Linked DNA regions of Homo sapiens. The protein of the gene in region 2 interacts with the protein of the main gene of each other region in a biochemical or structural test. Each region holds a gene or a part of one and is shown on either strand. Other genes may lie near its edges. The genes, in order: APLF and PARP3.

Region 1 (2,859 bases), on a different chromosome or scaffold from region 2:
CATGTTTTCATGTACTTTGCCTGGTTATACTTGCAGAGTACTCCATAATCTTTGGAAAAAAATTTAAAAAGACCAAAGTTTTATGCAACCTATGGCTTTTACTTTTTATTACCAATATACAAAGTACATAAAAAATATCCATTTTTACTCTACCTTCTCTGTCTTCCTATTTCCAGATGCTTTAAGTAGGAAAGAAAAGGCAAGGCAACAAAAAATTCCATCTATTATACTGAAGGCTGACGTTTCAATGTCTCATTTGTAAAGAGTCAGTAGTAAAAGTCATTAACTATCAAAAGAAGGAAAATAACTGTCACTTAAGTACCTCCTTAGTTCATAAATGTTTTCCCACAAAGAAAAAGTAAATGTAAGGCAGATATGACTACAGAAGTTAGTTACTATTTTCTTTTCATAAACCTTTTTGCTTCTTTCAAAAGCTCTTCCACATCTTCCTTCTCTTCATCTTCCTTTCCTGGTTCCCAGTCAGAATCTTCATCTGTTGGCTCATAGTCTTCTTCCTCATCATCTAGAAAGCTGTCGTTCAGGTCATACTCATTGGGTTGCCCAACATTATCATTATCTTCATCTAAAACATTTCTCACTGCAAAACAGAAGATTGGTACACAACACATCAATCACCACTCAACCTGGGATGACAGACATCTACCTATAAAATGTCTTTCTGCATCCAGAGGATTAATTTTATTAATGCATAGCTTACCACTACAAATTTCTGGAAACGGCACTAAAATGATGCTTTGTTATTTATTATTCTAACTTTTCCTACCATGAGGCTCCTGAAACTAAAATGACCCATGAGATTAATAATAATGGTTCCTTAATCTCATAATCATATTCACAACATCCCATCTTCCCATGTGGTAGAATGTATTTTTGTCCCAATTATTCACTGCCCCTTCCTGTGATATGATTATACTTCCTCACTTCTCAGTGATTGCTCAAAGAAATGTGAGTGGAAATAGTGTGTGTCACTTCCAAAAGGATGCTTTAAGACTCTTTCTCTGGTTCTGCTATTGCCATTTCCCCTCTGCCACAAGAACAGCATGTCCCAGATAGAGGCTGATCCCTCAGCCTGGATTCCAAGATGAGAATACACATGGCACAGGGCCACAGCCAATTCACAGCTGCAATAAGGAGAAATACACTTAAATAAGTGTATTTATTGTTATAAGGCACTGAAATTTAGAAATGTTTGTTATCACAGCAAACCTAGCAAAAGCTTGCTGACACATCAGGGCGTGAGCTTAGATACTTTGGAAAGTTTAGTTTTATAGGTCTAAGATATTCTTACAGTTCATGTTTCAGTAAGACTAGGAATGCCATAATAATAGACATTAGAATTTACAGATTTCTAAGTAATATTATAATACTAGAATTCTTCTGTCTCCAAATTCATTTCTTCCCCGATCTTACTCTTTCCACAGCGAGCTACAGAGTTGCTTTAAAATAAAGCAGTGAAAGACTCTAGGACAGTGTGGAACATTTAAGAAACAATTAGGAAGATTTCATCTAGAAATCTGAATGGCAGAGGACAGTCCCTAATGAACAGCAAATGTATAGGTTAAAAACATTAATGTCTGTACTTTAGTATACACTTTGGTTAACATCTTTCTAAAATGTTCACATGCAACATATAGTTATAATTTTAAAAATAAAGTCAATGAATTGGGAAAAATGAGAAAAATGACAAAGGAAGTAATGTATCTGTCCTTTTAACCCTTATAGCCCAATATATTTATATTTTTCTTAATATCAGTACGCATTCCAGAAAGGATTTGAGACAGCTTATAATAATAAAATGCTAATAAAGGTAGAAACCAAAAACATAAAAAGCAGAATACACATATGATAACCTCAATTTTTAACACAATTATTAAAAATAGAGCATCAAATTTATCCCCAAGATTCTTGGTAGCCAAGGCTAAAAAGGCAATATAATAACTTGCCCAATTATCATTATAGTAGGAAGCTCACCAGTTCCTTAAGGAAAATCTTGCATTACATATATCTGTATATACAGCTCCTGTAAACATCTTGAGGGCATGTTTTATGTCTAATCTCAGTTACCCATATTTTTAAAATAATAAAATGCATTTTTTAAAAATTGGAAGGCAGTTTGCAGTCGGGAAAGGGAATGAGAAGGAAAGAACATCAATATCTCTATTTTTGTCTATTTTCCTCTTGGAAATACCTTATACACATAACTTTTTTTTCTAAGATGTGAATGCACATTATCACATAACATGTCCTAATGATATCTCAATAAACAGTTTCCTTTCAGATTCAGAAATCACTTACCAGCTTTACAAGAAAAACAGATATAAAGGTGAAACAACTCCAGGTTCTCTGCTCACTTCATTGGCTGCTCCTTCTCAGTTTTCTTTGCTGGATTTTCCTCATCATCCTAATCTCTAAATTTTAGAGCTGGAACCTCTTCTCTAACTCACTCCTTAGATGATTCCATCCAGTCTTATGTCCTAAATTCCCAAATTCACATCTTAAGCCCTGACCTACTGCCCTGAATTCCAGACTCATTTATCTGGATACTTAAGCATTATCTGTACTTGGATGACTTACAGGCACCTGGAATATAACATTTCCAGAACATAACTCTTTAGTTGCTTTACCCAGATCTGGTCATTCTATTTATCAGTCTTGAATATATGACTTCTCTAATCATCCAACCATCTAGTTGTTTTAGCAAGAAATCTTGTAGTCATCCTTTAATATCCCTCACCGAGAACCCAACATCTAATACCTCAAGAGATCCTGTTAGCTTTACCTGCAAAGTAAATCCACCACTTCTGATCACATCCACTCTAATGCCCTGGCCCCAATACT
Region 2 (4,325 bases):
CTGGAGGAGCTGTCCTCACACTTTTACACCGTCATCCCGCACAACTTCGGCCACAGCCAGCCCCCGCCCATCAATTCCCCTGAGCTTCTGCAGGCCAAGAAGGACATGCTGCTGGTGAGGGCTGGCAGGGGTGCGGGCAGGCAGTGGGGCACTGAACAGACAGCCTAGGCGAGCGAGATGAAGGGCAGGTGGCCAAGAAGGCCCAGAAGGATGGACTGCCTGGGCAGGCTGACAGACGGGTGGGGAAGGCTGGGCAGACAGATAGGGTGGGGAGGGACAGGTGGGACACACAGGTGGGGTGGCTACAATACCAGTCATGTGAGAGAGGAGAGGGGAGGCCAGAGGTCAAGTGGGAAGACAAACTGCCAGGGCCCATCATCCTAGGTGCTGGCGGACATCGAGCTGGCCCAGGCCCTGCAGGCAGTCTCTGAGCAGGAGAAGACGGTGGAGGAGGTGCCACACCCCCTGGACCGAGACTACCAGCTTCTCAAGTGCCAGCTGCAGCTGCTAGACTCTGGAGCACCTGAGTACAAGGTGAGTTGGGCCCCACAGAGGGGCCAGGCTATCAGTGGGCACTGTCCCTCTGCCCACCTGCCCTCGAGGTGCCCAGAGGAATACTCGCCCTCAGCCTTCTCTTCCTGTGTCTCCAGGGCCTGAGGAGGGCTTGGGACTGGGGGAAGAAAAATGGGGGATTAGCTCCTGAGCCTCCCACCCTGGCAACCAGCTTCTGCTCTCCCCACAGGTGATACAGACCTACTTAGAACAGACTGGCAGCAACCACAGGTGCCCTACACTTCAACACATCTGGAAAGTAAACCAAGAAGGGGAGGTGAGGGAGGTTCCCCCACCTCTCCCCCATCACCACTGTGCCTTAGGAAGATGTCCTTGGCTAATCGGTCCCTTAGCAAATCGTTTAGCAGCTCTGGTCAGTTTCTGCCGGCCATGAGTGCGCGTGAGTAAGCAGAGGGACACTAGGCCTTGGTCACAAGCAGCAGGGCAAGGCGACTGAGTGCTCGGGTGGCATCACTCCCATTTCTCACTTCCTCTCCACTCAGGAAGACAGATTCCAGGCCCACTCCAAACTGGGTAATCGGAAGCTGCTGTGGCATGGCACCAACATGGCCGTGGTGGCCGCCATCCTCACTAGTGGGCTCCGCATCATGCCACATTCTGGTGGGCGTGTTGGCAAGGGCATCTACTTTGCCTCAGAGAACAGCAAGTCAGCTGGATATGGTGAGGTGCCCCTCTGGGCCAAGCCCTGGGAGGGTTGGCACTAAGATGGATTGGGCCCAGTCCTTGGCCACTGGAAATTCATGGTGAATCCAAGAGAGGAATCCTTTAATGGTTAATGACTACAGTGCTCAGTGGGCTGTCCTGGGCTTTGGTGGCGGGGGGTCTTAGAGAAAGTGTCTGATGGTCAGGGATGGCTTCCTGGGGGAGGCAATACAGATAGGATGGGTGCACCAACCAGACCTGGGAGGGGGTAAAAGGGGAGCCTTTGAGCCAGGTGTGGTGGCATACACCTGTAGTTCCATCTACTCTGGAGGCTGAGGCAGGAGGAACGCTTGAGCCCACAAGTTTAAGGCTGCCATGAGCTATGATCACACTCCAGCCTGTGTGACAGAGCCAGACTCCATCTGAAAAAATAAAAATAAAAAAGAGGAGACGTCAAGGCAAGGGGATAGGCAGAGAGGCTGGGAGGATGTGAGGATGTGGCAGGTCAGGGCTTCCAAACACTTCCTGATACTGGAGCTCAGAGCAATGCCTAGCCGGGGGCAGGGTGGGCTAGGGGCCCAGAACGATCGAGGAGGCTTTATCCAGAGAGTGATGGTTAGCCCAGCTGGACTTGTCTGTAGCAGGATCCCAGTGGCTACAGCTGTGGAGAGGGGGGCAGCAGCCAGAGGCTGCAGAGAGGCCATCCTCTTATCCAGGCTGGATGTGATGGGTGCCTGGCCCAAGGGCTGGGAAGTGCAGGGGAGGGAGCCCATGAGAGGGGCATGTAGGAGATGGGATGGGGAGCGTGTGGGAAAGGGTCAAGGCTGTCTCCAGTGACTTCTGAGTTTCTGGCCAGGAGTGTCCTCACCAAAATGACCCCCCCAGACCAGCTCCTCCACCCAGGCTGTCCCCATCATTGGAGGCCACCACCCAGCTGGCCAAGAGAGCAAGGACCAAGGATTCATCCCAGAACAGATGGGGCTGAAGTTCTAGGATGCCTGAGGTCACCAAGAGCAAGGGGTCCACCAGGAGGGCAGAGGGGCTTAGGAAAGAGTGGCGGGGTGGAGGGCTTAGGAGAGCCAGCGCGAGGAAGTCCCAGGTAGGGGCTGATGATGTCAGGAGCAAAGTCAGCAGAGCAGGCCAGGGAGAAAAGCCCCTGCCACGGGTTTGGTCACTGGGAGGCCATTGCTGACCTTGGTGAGGACAGCAGAGGGTACAGATGCCTGGCCATAGGGAGCACAGTGAGGTGGGAGGGAGCAGGCCGGGACAAGGAGGGAGTGACGGTTGGGGGAGAGTGAGCCTTTTCTTGCTGGAGCAGCAAAGCCAGAAGGAATAACATCGCAGCAGAGAGGGGCCCCACAGGTCAGCAGGAGGCAGGCTGAGCTGCCCACCGGTGCCTCCCTGTGTCTTGCAGTTATTGGCATGAAGTGTGGGGCCCACCATGTCGGCTACATGTTCCTGGGTGAGGTGGCCCTGGGCAGAGAGCACCATATCAACACGGACAACCCCAGCTTGAAGAGCCCACCTCCTGGCTTCGACAGTGTCATTGCCCGAGGCCACACCGAGCCTGGTGAGTCCTCAGAAGCTGTACAGCCCAAGGAGAGAGGTGGGGCCGAGATAGGGGCTGGGACATTTTCAGGGAGGGGGCTGTGAAGAGGGACAAAAAGAAGCTTCCCTGTCGTCACTCAGTTTGTCATTTGACAAACATCCACTGGTTCAACACATCATTCCTGGGCATCCCGGAGGGCTTCAAAAAGAGGAGTTGTTGACTGAGCATTGAAGGATTAGTACAAGTTTCCCAGAGAGAAGTCGGGGAGGACACCCCAGGCAGAAGCCCCAGCCCCTGCAGTGGTTTGGAGGTGGGCAAGGTGGAAATGAGCAGGCGTGCCCTGTGACAGACATGGAGAGCATAGGGGGCAGGACTTACTCGTAAGGCCTGGGACCAGTGACCCCTGGGCCACCCTGGCCCTTGCTGTGCCCTGCAGATCCGACCCAGGACACTGAGTTGGAGCTGGATGGCCAGCAAGTGGTGGTGCCCCAGGGCCAGCCTGTGCCCTGCCCAGAGTTCAGCAGCTCCACATTCTCCCAGAGCGAGTACCTCATCTACCAGGAGAGCCAGTGTCGCCTGCGCTACCTGCTGGAGGTCCACCTCTGAGTGCCCGCCCTGTCCCCCGGGGTCCTGCAAGGCTGGACTGTGATCTTCAATCATCCTGCCCATCTCTGGTACCCCTATATCACTCCTTTTTTTCAAGAATACAATACGTTGTTGTTAACTATAGTCACCATGCTGTACAAGATCCCTGAACTTATGCCTCCTAACTGAAATTTTGTATTCTTTGACACATCTGCCCAGTCCCTCTCCTCCCAGCCCATGGTAACCAGCATTTGACTCTTTACTTGTATAAGGGCAGCTTTTATAGGTTCCACATGTAAGTGAGATCATGCAGTGTTTGTCTTTCTGTGCCTGGCTTATTTCACTCAGCATAATGTGCACCGGGTTCACCCATGTTTTCATAAATGACAAGATTTCCTCCTTTTTTAAGGCTGAATGGTACTCTGTTATGTATATGCACCACATTTCCTCTATCCGTTCATCTATCAGTGGACACCAAGCTGCTTCCATATCTTGGCTATTGTGAACAGTGCTGCAGTGAACTGGGAAAGCAGACGTCTCTTGAACATACTGATTTCATTTCCCTTTGATGTATACCCAGTAGTGGGGTTTCTGGATCCATATCACCCCTTCTTGCCAGGCTCCCCTGTGTCCCAGACATCGATCCCCCTTCCCTCCAATCCCTGTTAGCCTTGATGTGTCTGTGGCCCCAGAGTCTTGCCTCCTAAAGTGATGGGTGTGGTACGGGCGTATTACAGGGACACAGATGCAGCAGCTTACTCAAGGGGCACAGCTGAGAGTGGCTTGGATCCCACATCCACCCAGGCCGTCCATCCTGGCCTGGACTGCATGTTGGAGCCATGTGGTCACCAAGGTAGGCTAAACTGCAGGCATGTGCAAGCAGCTTTACTAAACATGGTATTCTCTTGCCCCAGCCTCTGCCTGTCTGTGCCACAACTGTGCTGGGCCTGGGCCTCCAGCCACACTCCAGGGAGCG

The links.
Region 1: the proteins of PARP3 (region 2) and APLF form a complex in vitro, tested with the Homo sapiens proteins (one study listed by BioGRID).

Annotation. Positions count from the first base shown.
Region 1 is NC_000002.12:68,575,559-68,578,417, reverse strand, and holds part of APLF (aprataxin and PNK-like factor), read right to left. Parts: intron 599-2,859; coding exon 396-598; 3' UTR 1-395. UniProt on the Homo sapiens protein: Histone chaperone involved in single-strand and double-strand DNA break repair.
Region 2 is NC_000003.12:51,945,111-51,949,435, forward strand, and holds the end of PARP3 (protein mono-ADP-ribosyltransferase PARP3), read left to right. Parts: coding exon 1-114; intron 115-384; coding exon 385-534; intron 535-742; coding exon 743-829; intron 830-1,055; coding exon 1,056-1,233; intron 1,234-2,629; coding exon 2,630-2,785; intron 2,786-3,200; coding exon 3,201-3,370; 3' UTR 3,371-3,757; downstream 3,758-4,325. UniProt on the Homo sapiens protein: Mono-ADP-ribosyltransferase that mediates mono-ADP-ribosylation of target proteins and plays a key role in the response to DNA damage. Mediates mono-ADP-ribosylation of glutamate, aspartate or lysine residues on target proteins.